Homo sapiens: one gene and its partners. The protein of the gene in region 3 purifies or fractionates together with the protein of the main gene of each other region. This does not show direct contact. Each region holds a gene or a part of one and is shown on either strand. Other genes may lie near its edges.

Region 1 (3,074 bases), on a different chromosome or scaffold from region 3:
AAATGTTTAAAAAGAAAAGAATGTTATTTTGTAGCTGATGTTTGGCCTTAAAATTGTATCTGTGCTAGCTGGCTTATTGGTCAGTAAATAAGAAATGGTGTAATACGCTGAGAACTTAATGGAATTGTTAATATTGCTCACAGTGTCTCTCTTAATCTGTTTTCAGATTCTCACGGCTGTGTGAGCACAGGGAAATCAAAGCACTCTAGGCTACACTCCAGAGTAGCTTGTTCTCCAACTCGGATTTGATGGGGAACAAGAGAGTGTAGTCAGGCTCTGGGGTTAAAAAGACCTTGATTCAAGTCTCAGCTCTGCCCCTTTACTTTCAGAAGTCCTTTCACCTCCTGGAGCCTCCCTTCCTCCTTCAGTTTCCCCATCTCTAAAACGAGGGTGATGATAGTATTGGCTGCATAGCATTGTTCTAAGGCTCCTCTGTGGGAAAATCCCTTGGTACAGTGCCTGGCACATGGTAAGTCAGTCCCCAACTTTGGAAAAGGGTGATGAAGTGACAGTCTTTCCCCTTTTATTGCAGAGCCCTCATCCTGCAAGTCTCTCGGAAACACCTCCCTGAGTGGCCCCTCCATCCACTGCCCCTCTGCTGCAGTATGTATCGGCATCCTCCCAGGCCTGGGTGCCTACTCTGGGAGCAGCGACTCCGAGTCCAGCTCAGACAGCGAAGGCACCATCAATGCCACCGGAAAGATTGTCTCCTCCATCTTCCGAACCAACACCTTCCTCGAGGCCCCCTAGTTTCTCCGTCCCTACACAGGGAGCTCCTCCCCAAGGGTAGATCGGACCGTTCATGCTGCCTATAGGCATTATGTCCCTCAAAAAAAAACTCCTTTGCCTGCATCCTGTGTACAACATGACATTTTTAACCAATCCAATCTAAAAATGTGCCAGAATCCACCTGTGGCCCGAATCGTGTTTGGTTCCTCTTTCTACTCCACTGCAGATGACCAAACCTGTCCCGCTGCCACTTTCCTCACTGATATTGGGAGGAGGGCAAGGCCCAGCCGAAGTTCCACTAAAAATGCCCCAGGAGAATAGGCACCGGCTGGCTTGCCAAAGGGTTTGGGTTTTATTGCTTTCTGTTTTTTCTTTTCCCGACAGCACAAAGAAGTAAGGGCAGTTATTGGACAGGTGTTATTTAAACATTCTATTGTAAATGAATGTGTTGTTTGGTTCTACTGCATTGTGGAGCATGCGGGGGAAGAGAACTGACCCAGGTAGTGAAATGGAGCCCTTCCCTGGAACTAACCAGTCCTTGATGTTGTGTGACTAAGTAAAGATGATAAACCCCATCTGCTGGGGGTGTCACTTCACACTCGGCATGCATTGTGAAAGCTTTCCATACCCTTGGCCATTCCCTCTCTCCTCTCTCTCCAACCCCATTTATGCAGGAAGGGACTGCTAACAAGAACGCTTCCATCTCAAACCTTTTCTCTGCCTGGGAAATTATTTTATGTTTGTTTTTGAAATAAAGGATTTAGTTTAAGATTCTAAATTTTAGAGAAACAAACGTAGGCCTTGTTTACTAATAGCCAGACATCAGAACTGCAGGTAGGTATGTTAATGAGATGACTTATTTCTGGCAGCTCCTGGAATCCTAATATTGTAAATGAGTGGGACACACTTGCATATTGTGACCATTCTATTGAGGCCCTTCTCTGTTTAATGCATATTATACTTGTGCTTTTAACTGTGGAATCTATTTCTAACCTAAAGGTGCTGCCCTAGTACTTTTCTTTGCTGCCTCTGCTGCTCTTTTTCCTTTCCAAACAGCAACTCTGAGGCCATGAGCAGCCAAAAACTAGAGGTACTGCTCCACCTCGTCTCATAAAGGGAAACGGGCTCATCCCTTGGATTCTGGAGGAGGGAGAGGGAGATGGTGTGGAGGCCTCGAGGACAGAGATAGACATGAGCTTTGACAACAATCTGTAGGCTCTCCTGCTTTAGAATAAGCATGTACCATTCTTTATCCATTCCCCTTATTCCTACATCAATTGTTTTTACTTTCTTGGGTGTGAGACTGAGTGAGACACACACAAAATGTGTTGACACTGTGATGCCGGCAGGCAGAGCAGCTACTGACTTTGAACATGGGCAGAGAGGCCCCTGGATCTCATCCAGCCCACTCCTTTTCCCCTTCCAGTACAGTGACACTCTGGTGCCCATTGGCAGATGGCGACTTCCCTGCACCCATAACTGATGCTTTGTGAATTCTTCCTCCTTTTCAGAACTACTCTGTGCTAATTGTTCTGCCAGTATGGGCGCATCAGCTCCATCCTGACAAACAAGACATTTAGGTAAAACTTTGTAGGCACCTTCTGCTTCTCTGCTTCATTGTTCCTGTGATAGTCCTGTTGTTATTACAGCATGTACCCAAAACAGCCTCACATTGTTACAGGAGGCAGGCCAGGACATCAAAGTCATCATCTTTATGTGGCATGACTCTTAAGAGGCCATTACTGTATCTCATGGCCTCTTGATGTGGAAAGAAGTTGACAGAGGGTTGCAGGGTTTAAAAACATCCATTAACATGAAAGCTAATAAACCTGTCAGAGAACAAGATCTTGTTTTTCCTCTACTGAATATTGTGCTTCCACCTCTCCCCATGTCTCTCAGCTAGATTGTGTTGAGAAGGTTGAGTGAGACTCTTCAGACTGTGACTTACCTTCTGGTGTCTCAGGAGAGACTGAGAATCACTGGTGATCATTGCATCATATTCCATTGTCCCCATCAGCACAGAGCTCTGGAACTGAAACAGAGCTTCTGTAGCAACCACAGCTAACAAAGCAGCGTCTGATCTGACCAACAGAGGAAGCAGCCTTGGAAAGTATCTAGTGTAGACCTTGAAGTTCAAACCCAAAGGAGAATAGAATAAACAGGGCTGGAAGGAAACACTGCTTTAAACTGTAAAGTGTAGTACTCCTGCCTTAATAATTGGGATTTTATGGTAATTACGGGACAAAAACAAAGTTTGGCATGGGTTTCTTTAAGCTCGCTTACTTTGTTCTGAGTGGTAGGATTCTTACAATTCTCCAGCCATGTGAGGGAGAAAGCTAATAGGA
Region 2 (7,878 bases), on a different chromosome or scaffold from region 3:
CATGCCAGGGACAGGTTTGTAAAAGACTGACCATTTTACCAGGGGCTTGACCTCACCAGTTCCAAATAAAGAGATCACCATGACCCCAAGTTTTTTTCTATCTTAGAAATGTTGGGCCAGGCACGGTGGCTCACGCCTGTAATCCCAGCACTTTGGGAGGCCAAGGCGGACAGATCACCTGAGGTCAGGAGTTCGAGACCAGCCTGACCAACATGGAGAAACCCTGTCTCTACTAAAAATACAAAATTGGCTGGGCGTGGTGGTGCATGCCTATAATCCCAGCTATTTAGGAGGCTAAGGCAGGAGAATTACTTGAACCCAGGGGGCAGAGGTTGCAGTGATCCATTGCACTCCGGCCTGGGCAACAAGAGTGAAACTCCGTCTCAAAAAAAAATAATACTAAAATAAAAAATGTTTGACTTGGGGAATTCCTGACTTCCCTACTGGTGGTCAAGGCAGAGACTGTGCAGGCTCCAAAGTCAGTGCACTTGCTGACAGTGCACTTGCTGTGTTCCAAGGGTAAGTGCCTTATATGCCTTAATACTGACACCTAAAGCCCAGTGGGCCCAGGCCGGGAAAATGGGACAGAGGCTCTGCTTACTTTAATTCAGTGTCAGAAATGGTCACAACTCAACAACTCAAAGGAAATTAAGAAACTAAATAATGAGGCTCAGGGCCGGGTGCGGTGGCTCACGCCTATAATCCCAGCACTTTGGGAGGCCGAAGTGGGCGGATCACCTGAGGTAAGGAGTTCAAGAACAGCCTGTCCAACATGGTGAAACCCTGTCTCTACTAAAAATACAAAAATTAGCCAGGTGTGGTGGCACGCGCCTGTAGTCCCAGCTACTCAGGAGGCTGAGGCAGGAGAATTGCTTGAACCTGGGAGGTGGAGGCTGCAGTGAGCCAAGATCGTGCCACTGCACTCCAGCCTGGGAGACAGAGCACGACTCCATCTCGGGGGCGGCGGGGAGGGGGGAAGACGGGGGGTGGGGGGCTCAGAAACAGGAAAAAAAAGTATGGGGAGGGGCAGAAAAGAATCTCATCTTTTACATTTGAGCAGTTACATTATCCAACTAAGTCCGAAGAACAGCTTCTCTTTGGACCCAGGGATCTCATTCCAAAAACAGATCAGCAACCAGCAGGGCCCCATGACTTCCTCTCTCCCACAGGTCTACTCAGAGACACCTGCTCTCACATCAAGTACACCAGAAAGATGGTGCAGGAGTTAGCAGGCAGACTGAGGTTTCAAGAGATAGAGAGAGAATGTTCCCAGACTTTTTGCTCACTAACTACTTCGGTTTTGCGTTCCCATTTGAGACCCCACAGAAACGAACGTGGATTTCTCTACTCCAATGGTGCAGGTGGAACAAACTCCCATTTAGGCTTATTCAATGAATGTAAAATAAAACATTTCTAATAGTGACAACTCTGCAGCCAGTCAGACACGGCGAGTCTCTTCTCCATGGTGTAGGGGCAACCCACCCCTACAACCCACCCCTACACATGGGTTCTGGTTCTCTACCCCTTTACGCAGTTGCCTTTCCTGTTGCTGTTGCAACAGTGACTGTTGCAACACTGAGGGTTTTCAGCTCTGCCCTGCACCCAGAGGAGGTGGCAATCACCACAGAGCCCAGGACAGGAGTGGGCTGCTCCTTCCAGATAACGCAGAAGCAGCGCCCACTTCCTCCCCGCTCCCCGTAGCAATTTCAAGGAAGCTCATTCTGTCGCAGCCAATTTGAAGAAGCAAAGAATGACACTAAACCAATGAAACTAAATCTTACTCTGCATTCGCATGCCCCACGGCATGAGGTTCCACACTGGGCACTCAAAATCCAGGATAGACAGAGCTCATTTCAACCCCTCTAAAAAAGCACGCTGGGCTTCCAGACTTTGTGAGTAGTGGAGGGAAATCATCCAGCCCCAAGTGAACAGCTCCCCAGGCTCACCTTGGGCGTGCAGTGCGCGGTGGAGCAGGGGCAGGAGCCCCGCCTGCCAGAAGGAGTAGCAGCCATCCACCAGCTTGTTGCAGCGGCCCTGAAATCCTCCTTCAAATCGCATCTGCCGGCTTGTCACCCATTGCTGAGGAGACACAGATGGGAAAGGCAGTTGTAGGCTAAAAGAGACAAAATCCAGCCCGACAGAATCTCCAGGAGTCAATCTGTGGGATGGAGGGTTTCCCATCTTGTGGCTTCTTGGCACTCTAGTTTTGGTGCTCTGGTTTTCTTTCCTTCCCTCCCCACACTGCCATAGACACAGAGTGAAGCATTTAAGCCAACGCTGTAGAGGCATCCAGCACTGATCTCTGCTCAATGCCTGGCAGACAACTACCTTTTCCTGGGTTCCAAAGCAGTGCCAGTGCTGAGAAGATAAAGAGGCCAAGCTGGTTTGTAAGGAGACCTTCAAAGTCTCTTAATAAACATGGCTTAAGTTGGAAATTGAAGGCAAGACTACCAGTAGCTCATTTCTCATTACTTCCCTGCTCCGGGGAGTTTATTAAAAGCAGATAAATGGAATTTGGTACTACATTTCTTTTTTTTTTTTTTTTTTTTTTTTTTTTTTTTGAGACGGAGTCTCGCTCTGTCGCCCAGGCCGGACTGCGGACTGCAGTGGCGCAATCTCGGCTCACTGCAAGCTCCGCTTCCCGGGTTCACGCCATTCTCCTGCCTCAGCCTCCCGAGTAGCTGGGACCACAGGCGCCCGCCACCGCGCCCGGCTAATTTTTTGTATTTTTAGTAGAGACGGGGTTTCACCTTGTTAGCCAGGATGGTCTCGATCTCCTGACCTCATGATCCACCCGCCTCGGCCTCCCAAAGTGCTGGGATTACAGGCGTGAGCCACCGTGCCCGGCCTGGTACTACATTTCATCAGATGATCTCAAACTGCTCCTGACTTTTACTTGGCACCTGGGGAAATTTACCCAAGGTCTCTTAGCAAGTCACTAGCAGGCCTGAAAGCAGAAGCCATTCATTCTAATTACCAAATGACAACTCTGCCCAGTCTGTGGCTGATATAAGAAAATCTTTTACTTTGAAGCTGTAAAATAGGTCTTGGTCTTGATGTCACTCAGCGGTCACACACGATACCACCATTCCTTGCTTATCTACAAGTTTTCTAAACACACTCTACTACAAAGATCAAGATAGTCATGGGTTTGGTCCCTCAGAATGAGCAGAACCAACTGGCTGAGCAGATATGACATTTCCATTTCCCTCCCTAGACCACCTAGGCCGTTCCAGCCACGGACTTACAGAGCTGCCTCACTCAACTGAAAGGGTACAGGGGAGGGTACTTCCTGTTTCTAGAGTCTTACTAGGTAAAGGTCCTGAAAGGAGCCACTGGGACCCTTGATGGAAGTGGGGGCCAGCCCTCCCCTAAAAGCTGTTGTTTAGATTATTCCCTCTTCAAGGCAACACCTGCCCATAGAGAGTCACAGTCACAAATGCTTAAAAGAGACAGAAAACACTGTACTGCAGGTTCAGGTACTAATATATCCTCGGTTGATCTTAAATGAACCAGGGCTTCCAGCATGTAATGGAAGTGGGCTAAGCATTACTCAGGCAGAGAGAAAGCAGGCGCTGCAGTGGGAGTCGGTTCCTCATTTCTACTTACCGCAGGGCTTAAGTGTTTTTAAGCAGACTAATTTACTTTTTCCAGTGCCTAAGCCCATGGATTTGTTCTGTTTCCTTGGGCTATAGGAATTCATACTTCAGATATGGGTCCTACTTCTCCCAAAGCAAATGGAAGGGAGTAGTCTGGATTAGAGCAGGGGTCCCTAACCCCCAGACCATGCCAGGCTGCACAGCAGGACATGAGTGGTGGGTGAGCCAGTGAAGCTTAATCTGTATTTACAGCTGCTCCTCACTGCTCCCATTACTGCCTGAGCTCCACTTCCTGACAGATCAGCAGCAGCATTAGATTCTCATAGGAGCGCAAACCCTACTGTGAACCGTGTATGCCAGGCTTCTAGGTTGCACGCTCTACATGAGAGTCTAATGCCTGATGATCTGTCACTGTCTCCCATCACCCCCAAATGGGACTGTCTAGTTGAAAGAAAACAAGCTCAGGGCTCTCACTGATTCTACATTATGGTGAGTTGTATAATTATTTCATTATATATTACAGTGTAATAATAGAAATAAAGTACACAATAAATGTAATGTACTTGAATCATCCTGAAGCCATCACCCCCCGTCCCACCCCCAACCCCAGGTCCACGGAAAAATTATCTCCCACAAAACTGGTCCCTTGTGCCAAAAAGATTATTACTGTGGGTTAGAGGGACACTAACATTTATTAAGTACCTACTATGTGCCAGGCTGTTTATAAATGTTCTCTCCTTTAACCTTAAAAAAATAAGGATTGTTATCCCTACCTTATAAAAGAAAAAAATATCAAGCTAAAAGAGATTAGACAATTTGCCCAAGGACTCATGTCTCAAATGTAGTAGGGACAGGGTTCAAATCTAGAACACTGTCTTTATAACTGAGGCACTCCCTAATCACATTCCTTATCTCTGCCTGGGAGATGGGACTTTTTTGTTTCATGCCTTATTGGTGTTCAGATTTTAAAACATCTGAGAAACTCTTAAGTTCAGCATACAAAGTTGGCTGTTTCAGCATGAGCCTTCAAGCCTTCATGAATCTTTAAAAAGACTACACCGGGGGAGGCTTTCTGAAGGTGGAGGCAAGACACTGCTGGTTACATGTCTACAGGGTACAACAGAAACTCTCCAGGAAGCTCACGATGGGCCGCATAACGGGAGGCTGGCATCTGAACTCAGGGAGAGGAGGTGCATGTCAGTTGCAGCTGGTTTGCTTTGACGTCATGGTCAGGGGGTACATGCTCCCCAAATGACATGACGGGGAATGCCTTCTCCCTGGTGGCCGTGGAGGTGTGTGTGTTTGTGCACCCACTGATCATTTAACTACAATCTAGTGACTCCCTGAAGCTGACTGCTTTCTGAGTTTCTTCTGAATACTGGCCAGGAGCGTGGGGTCCAGACATAAATGTTGGGCTGCCTTCTCAATGCAATTAGCCAGCTCTGCCTAAACAACTCATTTAAATGTAGGTACTAAATGTTTACACAGTGCAGCAGGTAATAAAAGTTTGGTTTCGAAATGCTGCAAAGCTCTTCTTGTAACTTTTCCTCTTAGGAGGTTCTTTCTATAACACACGATAACCTCTAATTCTACGAAACTGAAGTATAAGGAAGGTACTCTGCTCACACCAGATGTCTGCAGCACACAGTCTATGTAGTCTACACACTATGTAAAAAGCTCTAAGCAGGAAGACAGAAAGGCAGAAGGGGGAGCCAAGACAGAGCAGCTGCTCACTCCTTCCTCTGTGTTGGAACAGAGCTAACTCTCTTAGCCCTTCCCATAGCCAAACTCTCCTGAAGCCTGCATGTCTGAGTACAATCACATCACCATGACCTGGGGCCTGAGAGGGGGATGGCTCAAAAGATACTTACTAATAAGCTCTTCAAGTTCAAGGAACGTTCCCTCTTGAGGATTACCAGCGCGGCCAGGCCACAGAAGGTATAGCCACCATGGGCTTCCATCCCTGGTACCCCGCCAATGCCACCTTCCCAGTTCTGACACCTAAGAAGAGATTGAGAAAAGCAGAATGAGTGGCCAGTGAGTGGACGTACACAAGACCAGGACCATCCTAGGTGGCAGAGAAAAAGTTCACTCAGATTAAGGTGTGAACCATCACAACTATGAATGAAAAGATGCCAACTAATTAACTTTTGGAAATGTCTTTTCAAAAAAAAAAAAAAAAAAAAGCTGGGCCTGGTGGCACCCATGTGTAATCCCAGCTGCTCAGGAGACTAAGGCAAGAAGATCACTTGAGGCGAGGAGTTCGAGGCTGCAGTGAGCTATGATCACACCATTGTGCTCCAGCCCGGGTGAAAGAGTGAGACTAGGTCTCCAAAAAATGTAAGTATAATAAAAACTGTAAAATGTTAAAAACCCAGACACTTAGAAACAGCCTACTTGTGTAAGAAACATAATAATTCAAATTATTACTCTTTGGGAAAAAGTTATAAAATCATACATATACATATATGTACATATATACACATATATATACATATATATATATACACACATATATATACATATATATACATATATATATAGTGATAACCATCAAGTTAAAATAAAATTAAAGAGTGATTGTTGATTCTAGTGATCTTTTATTTTTGAAACAGGGTCTTAACTCTGTTACCTAGGTTGACTGCAGATCATGGCTCACTGCAGCCTCAACCTCCTGGACTCAGGCAATCCTCCCACCTCAGCCTCCTGAGTAGCTGGGACTATGGGCGTGCCCCACCATACCCGGACCATTTTTTGTATTTTTTGTAGAGATGGGGCATTGCCATGTTACCCAGGCTGGTCTTAAATTTCTGGCCTCAAGGAATCCTCCCACCCCAGCATCCCAAAGCGTTGGGATGACAGGCATGGGCCACCGCACTTGGCCTCTGGTGATCTTTGAGTACAGGTCTACTAGTAATATTTTTCCTTTTTGTTTTTCTATTTGTTCAAAAAGTTTTTATAATGAACCTGTATACTATTAAAAAATAAACGTTATTTTTAAAAATTATAATTAGGCCAGGTGGTGATGGCTTCTTAAACAGCCTGCAGAACCATGAGCCAAATAAACCTCTTTTCTTTCTAAGTTACCCAGCCTCAGGTATTCCTTTATACTGACACAAAATGGACTAACACAAGAAGGACAAGAAATAACTGACTTAGTAGAATAGAGAAACCTTTCCTACCCAAAGGATAGGGATGGGAGAGGGGCAACAAAAAGCAAGGTGATCTGCTCCAATAAAAGGCTCCAGGATTAGAGATACAGGGAACCTCCACAAAGTGGAATGCGTCTGAACCAAGTTTGTTGGTTGCAAACTTATATAAGAATCAGACCTTTAAGTCCCCTACTCAAATCCAGCAGAAGATGGGAAGTTTCAGAGGTTTAATCAAAAGGATCTGAGTTCCAGAATATCCAACAAGCTAAGAGGAGGAGGGAGCACTGTACCAAATGTGATTACGTGAGAGTCAGTAATCTCAACACAATACCCCCAGCCCCATTCCTCTGTGTATTTCACACAAGGCTGCCAGTTTCATACCCCAAGCAGGAATTTAGAAGATTCCTCTCTGAGGGAACTGATAAGCCCAAGGGAAAAACCCTACAGACACTGCTTTGAGAATTCCCCAATGAATGGCTTGATCCTGCCCACTCTCGCAGAGCTCCCCAGCAGCTTTTCAGTGCTGGATCCTTAAATATGAACAGACAGCTGTAGAGTACCAGACATTTGACCACAGTCTCTACTATGAAAGAGGAGACCAAAACAAACAAAAATAAATTGGAGGAAATAAGACAGGGAGCAAAAGAAAACTTTTTAAAGTTGTATCTTTAGATAAAATATTATATGAAGTAAGACTATTGAGAGGACAAAATATCCCCAGAAAAGAACAAGAGAGTAGATAAAAAAGTAGTCAGGAAGTAAAAGTAGTCAGGGAGGAAAACTAAAAATAGGATTACAAAAATAAAAACAAGAGGATTAGAAGATAAATACTAAGAGAATCTCTCAAAGTATAAGAAGAAGGATTAAGAGATGGAAACGAACCATGCAATGAAATATTTTTATTTTTATTTATTTATTTTTGAGACAGAGTCTCGCTCTGATGCCGAGGCTGGAGTACAGTGGCACAATCTTGGCTCACTGCAACCTCCGCCTCCTGGGTTCAAGTGATTCTCCTGCCTCAGCCTCCTGAGTACGTGGGATTACAGGTGCATGCCACCACGCCCGGCTAATTTTTGTATTTTTAGTAAAGACAGGGTTTCACCATGTTGGTCAGGCTGGTTTCGAAC
Region 3 (4,147 bases):
TGGCTTGTTAACAAGCAGCTAGTTCCATAAAGGTGAGTAGTTAGGTAGCTGCTGATAAGTGAGAAATGGAGCCGGGACTGACTGGCCACAGGGCTTTATTATGATGGCCGTGGTGTGGCGTGGGAAAAGGCCAAACATTTGTTCAATGCCCCACAAACTGGCTTCTCCTACATCAAGCTTGATTTGCTTAAACCCCCCTGAAACAGACATTAGTATCACTATTTTATAAACATGAAATAGGCTCAGAGAGGTCATGTGACTTCTAAAAAGTCACTCAATATAAAATCAGATTCAAACACTTCAATTTTTTCCCAGTTAACTGTTAAGCAGCCATTTCTAGGGTGGCCTCCTCCCCAAATCTGTGTTACTGGGCCCAGAGGAGGAGCTTTAGGTTGAAATGGTTAAACAAAGAGAGGGTGGTAGTGGGGAGACCCTGGTTGTGGAATTGTGGGAGGCAGGTGGCCAGAGGCCTAAGTGCCGGGGCAGGTGGGATGAGGTGGAAGGATGTACTGCTGGGATTCCCTCACTCCCAGACCTGCCCCTTGCTGCCCTGGCCATGCTGGGTCCCCGCCTTCGTATACAGCCCTCCCATATATTCAGTGGCGTTCCCAGTGGGCAACTGGGGCCCAACTCCGGCTCTCTGGAGCAAAGTGGAAGTTGCCAGTCTCACTCAGGCCCAACCCAATCCAGCCTCCACTTGGGGCTCCCTGGGCAGGCCCCCACGAAGGCTAGTGCAAGGGAGCTCCCCAGAAAGGGTCAGATTTTTTAGCTGGGAGGGCGCTGTCTTGACTGCCCGCTGACAGCGCACTCAGGACAGAAGTTCACGCAAAGGTTGATGGAATGGAAGAGTGAGTAGAGATTATTTTCGAAAGTTGATGGGATTGAAAATACCCAGCAAGGGAACTGCAAGGGAGACTGTTCAGGAAATGGGCTGGAGTGCAAGCTGGGTGGGAAGACCGCTGAAAGTGGTTACTGGGGTGGAATTTGCACGGGAATTAGCGGGGTGGTGGGGGCGGAGGTAGGCACCGACCGTAGGGGAGCTCCAGGAAGATTGCGCTGGGAGCAGGAGCTCGGGAGCACGCAGCAGCCACTATGAGGTGCTAAGCAGTCCCCGCGCTGTGGCTCCGCCCAGGCTGGTCCGCGCGGCAGCTGATGCCCAGTCTTGGTGCCCAGTAATGGTGGGGAGGAGTGTGTGAGTGGGCGGGGTGGGAGGGGGGGAGAGTCCATCCAATCGTTCTCCCTCTGTCCCAAACTGGAGATCTATCTGCATCGCTGCCCTGACCCCCAATCCCGGAGAGCTCTGTGCCCCTCGATGGCTCCACTGCTCTCCCGAGGGCGCCCACTCCATGCAGCCTGCCTCTGGGGAATATGGAGGTCTTCGTCCGGAGAAAACTCGGGCTCCCTTGGCTTTCCTCTCCCCAACGGCATGGTTAGGACCCTGTGACTCCTACCGACAGAGGGTGACCCCGGCCAGATGGGGTCGACCAGGGCTTGGGGTTGAGGTCTTCAGATTGAGGGTGGACCTGCCATGTCACCCTGGAGCAGTAGAGATGCAGTACCAGCTCCCCCTCCTGATCCGGTGCCTTCTGTGATCTGTGACCAAGGCAGGACACATTTGGAGGCCCAGCTGACATCCACTTTTTGACACCAGCCACAGTGCAATCAGTTTTTGACAATCAATTTTTGACAATCAGGTCGCAATGCACGCGCATGACCTACAGGGTGCTGGGGCTATTCCGCCTGCCTCGTGACTTCTGAGCAGGCTCTCATTTCGCCTTTTCCCTTTCTTGGGAAAATGGAATGGGGAGCAACCAGGAGCCCTTGCTCCTGCCACTTTCTAGCTGAGTGAGCCTGGGCAAGTTACTTGCTGCCTCCGCGCCGCGGTTTCCTCTTGCGAGCTCGCGGGGCGATTGTGAGGCACTTTGCACCCAGGAAGCACACGAGCGCCCTGACTTCACAGAGCGCGCCACTCAGGAGACTAGCTCGCGGAGGTGGGGGAGGGGTGCTGCTCGCTGGCTTCTTTGGTTCTAGACTGACCTTAGGGGCCTCGGGGTGGGGGTGGGGGAAGCCTGAAGTCGCGACACAGGCTCCCTCTACCGAAGGCCTCTTTCCTTCATCCTTCCCAGCCCCAGACAAACAGGCAGAGTAAGCAGTATTCGTCTTAGGTGCCATATGGAAGATCTTATTTGTAGACTCGTGAATTTCGCCACCCATTCCTCCCCTTCAGCTGATGGCGCGATCTCCACCCTCTGCTCGCACCTCTGGCTCTCGTCCAGGTCACATCAACCTGCCAGCAGAAACCTCGGTGTTAGGCGCTAAGACTGTCCCCAGGGGGCGCTGGTCGTTTGGGGAGCGGGCGCAGGGACAAGGGTGCTGTGGTGTCTGGTAGGTTGGAAATGCCTTTGCTAAAAAGGAAAAGCCTCCCTTTAAGCTAGACCCGGTGGGCACTCACCCCCTTCCTTTCGTGGGACTTTCATTCTCCCACGAAAGGGCTGCGGTATTTTCTTCTTTTTTTGCTAAGGAACTTTCTGCTCAGAGTAAATCTTTTTTTCCTTTCTTTTTTTTTAAGACAGGGTCTTGCTCTCTTGCCCAGGCTGGAGTGCAGTGGCGAAGTCACAGCTCACTGCAGCCTCGACTCCTGGGCTTAAGCGATCCTCCGACCTCAGCCTCCTGAGTAGCTGATACTACAAGCGCAAGGCACCACATCTGGCTAATTTTTAAATTTTTTGTAGAGACAGTGTCTCATTATGTTGCCCAGGATGGTCTTGAACTCCTGGCCTCAAGCAGTCTTCCTGCCTCGACCTCCCAAGGTGCTGGGATTACAGGCGTGAGCCACCATGCCTAGCCTGTTCAGAGTAAATCTTATTTGAGGCATGAATCAATCAAACATAAATAGAGAGTTGAATTGATCTTAGAGGGAATGGGATGCAGCAAAGCCCTACTTGACCATCTCCCCCCTCCCACATTTGGAAATCCTTAAACCCACTTATGTAGGCCTCTGACTGTGAGATTCAGAGCCACAGCAGTTTCCACCTCTGCTAAGGCCTTCAGGCAGTGAGATGGCTCACTTCAGTGCCCCTCCTTCCACACATCTCCTAGCTGTATCCTGAGACGCCTCAACCTAGTCACTACCCTTCTGTATGATGTTGGTCTAAGGCTTCCCCCTCTCTGGACATGAAGGCGGAGCCTCCCAGCACTACCAGCCACACACCACTCAAGACTCCAGATCCTGAACCCTGACTCTGGGGCCCAGCTCTGGGCCTGGCTTGGGGCTTGCATCTCACCTAGCCTGGCAGTGTTGTTGTCACACCCACCTTGTATGGATGCCACATAGGCATTTCAAGTGATGCGGAGCAGAAGCGGGTGCAGCGGCGCTTGACCCAACGCAGGGTGGAGGATCTGCACATCACCCTGGGCGCCGGGAGGTGGATTCGTGTGGGCAGCCCCTCAAACCAGATCCACTGGTCGGCTACATCCAGCTGCTTCATGTGCCCCATGGGAGTTCTATTGCGGTAGGGCTTAATGAAGATGACTCGGGGGCCCTCGGTGAGTGGTTGCCTCCCCTGGACTCCAGGGTTCAAGCTATCATCCCTCGATGTCCTTGGAACCTCAGGCTCTATATGCTTTTCTTTCCGTGGCATTGCCGCCAATGACGTTTTCTCCTTGTTCCTCATCCCTGACTGCACCTGGGACTTCCACTCCTTGTACTCTTTTTTCTTAGGGTCCCCTGTGGACTCTAATTTCTTGGACTTGAGTTCCTTCTCGGAGCACCCGATCTCCTGGAACTCTTCATTATTTTGTTTTGTTTTATTGCAGGCACTGTTTTCCCTGGCAGGGAGAGGAAAGGCAGTCAGCACAGCAGGACCGAGGCCCTGGTTCCCGAGACAGTTGCTATGTAGCCAGCTCAGGGGAGCCTGTTAAGAAAGGCTAGAGGGGCCTGCAAAGAAACTTCTCTACTGCCCAGAGGCCTTGTGCTGGTGTGAGGAGGTGTGATGAGCACTAGCAGAGGGATGTGAGAGATTGGGAAGGTGAAAGCCATGACTAGTAGTTAAGGCCCCTAAGAATGAATATTGTCTACATCATCTGCCACTAGATTAGGGTTCTGTCTCTCTGGACTTCAGCTGGGAGGGTGAACAGTCCAGTAGTT

The links.
Region 1: the proteins of TP53TG5 (region 3) and PSME3IP1 purify together in Homo sapiens (co-immunoprecipitation; 3 studies listed by BioGRID and IntAct, with this or other methods). This does not show direct contact.
Region 2: the proteins of TP53TG5 (region 3) and FNTB purify together in Homo sapiens (affinity purification with mass spectrometry, with the first as the bait; 2 studies listed by BioGRID). This does not show direct contact.

Annotation. Positions count from the first base shown.
Region 1 is NC_000016.10:57,151,966-57,155,039, reverse strand, and holds the end of PSME3IP1 (PSME3-interacting protein), read left to right. Parts: intron 1-532; coding exon 533-750; 3' UTR 751-2,574; downstream 2,575-3,074. UniProt on the Homo sapiens protein: Promotes the association of the proteasome activator complex subunit PSME3 with the 20S proteasome and regulates its activity.
Region 2 is NC_000014.9:65,038,512-65,046,389, reverse strand, and holds part of FNTB (protein farnesyltransferase subunit beta), read right to left. Parts: intron 5,601-7,878; coding exon 5,471-5,600; intron 2,080-5,470; coding exon 1,947-2,079; intron 1,703-1,946; exon of another isoform or gene 1,621-1,702; intron 1-1,620. Other genes in the region: CHURC1-FNTB protein, read right to left, coding at 1,947-2,079, 5,471-5,600. UniProt on the Homo sapiens protein: Essential subunit of the farnesyltransferase complex. Catalyzes the transfer of a farnesyl moiety from farnesyl diphosphate to a cysteine at the fourth position from the C-terminus of several proteins having the C-terminal sequence Cys-aliphatic-aliphatic-X.
Region 3 is NC_000020.11:45,371,725-45,375,871, forward strand, and holds the end of TP53TG5 (TP53-target gene 5 protein), read right to left. Parts: exon of another isoform or gene 3,829-4,147; coding exon 3,315-3,828; exon of another isoform or gene 2,571-3,314; coding exon of another isoform or gene 2,570-2,570; intron 2,288-2,569; coding exon 2,183-2,287; 3' UTR 833-2,182; downstream 1-832. UniProt on the Homo sapiens protein: May play a significant role in p53/TP53-mediating signaling pathway.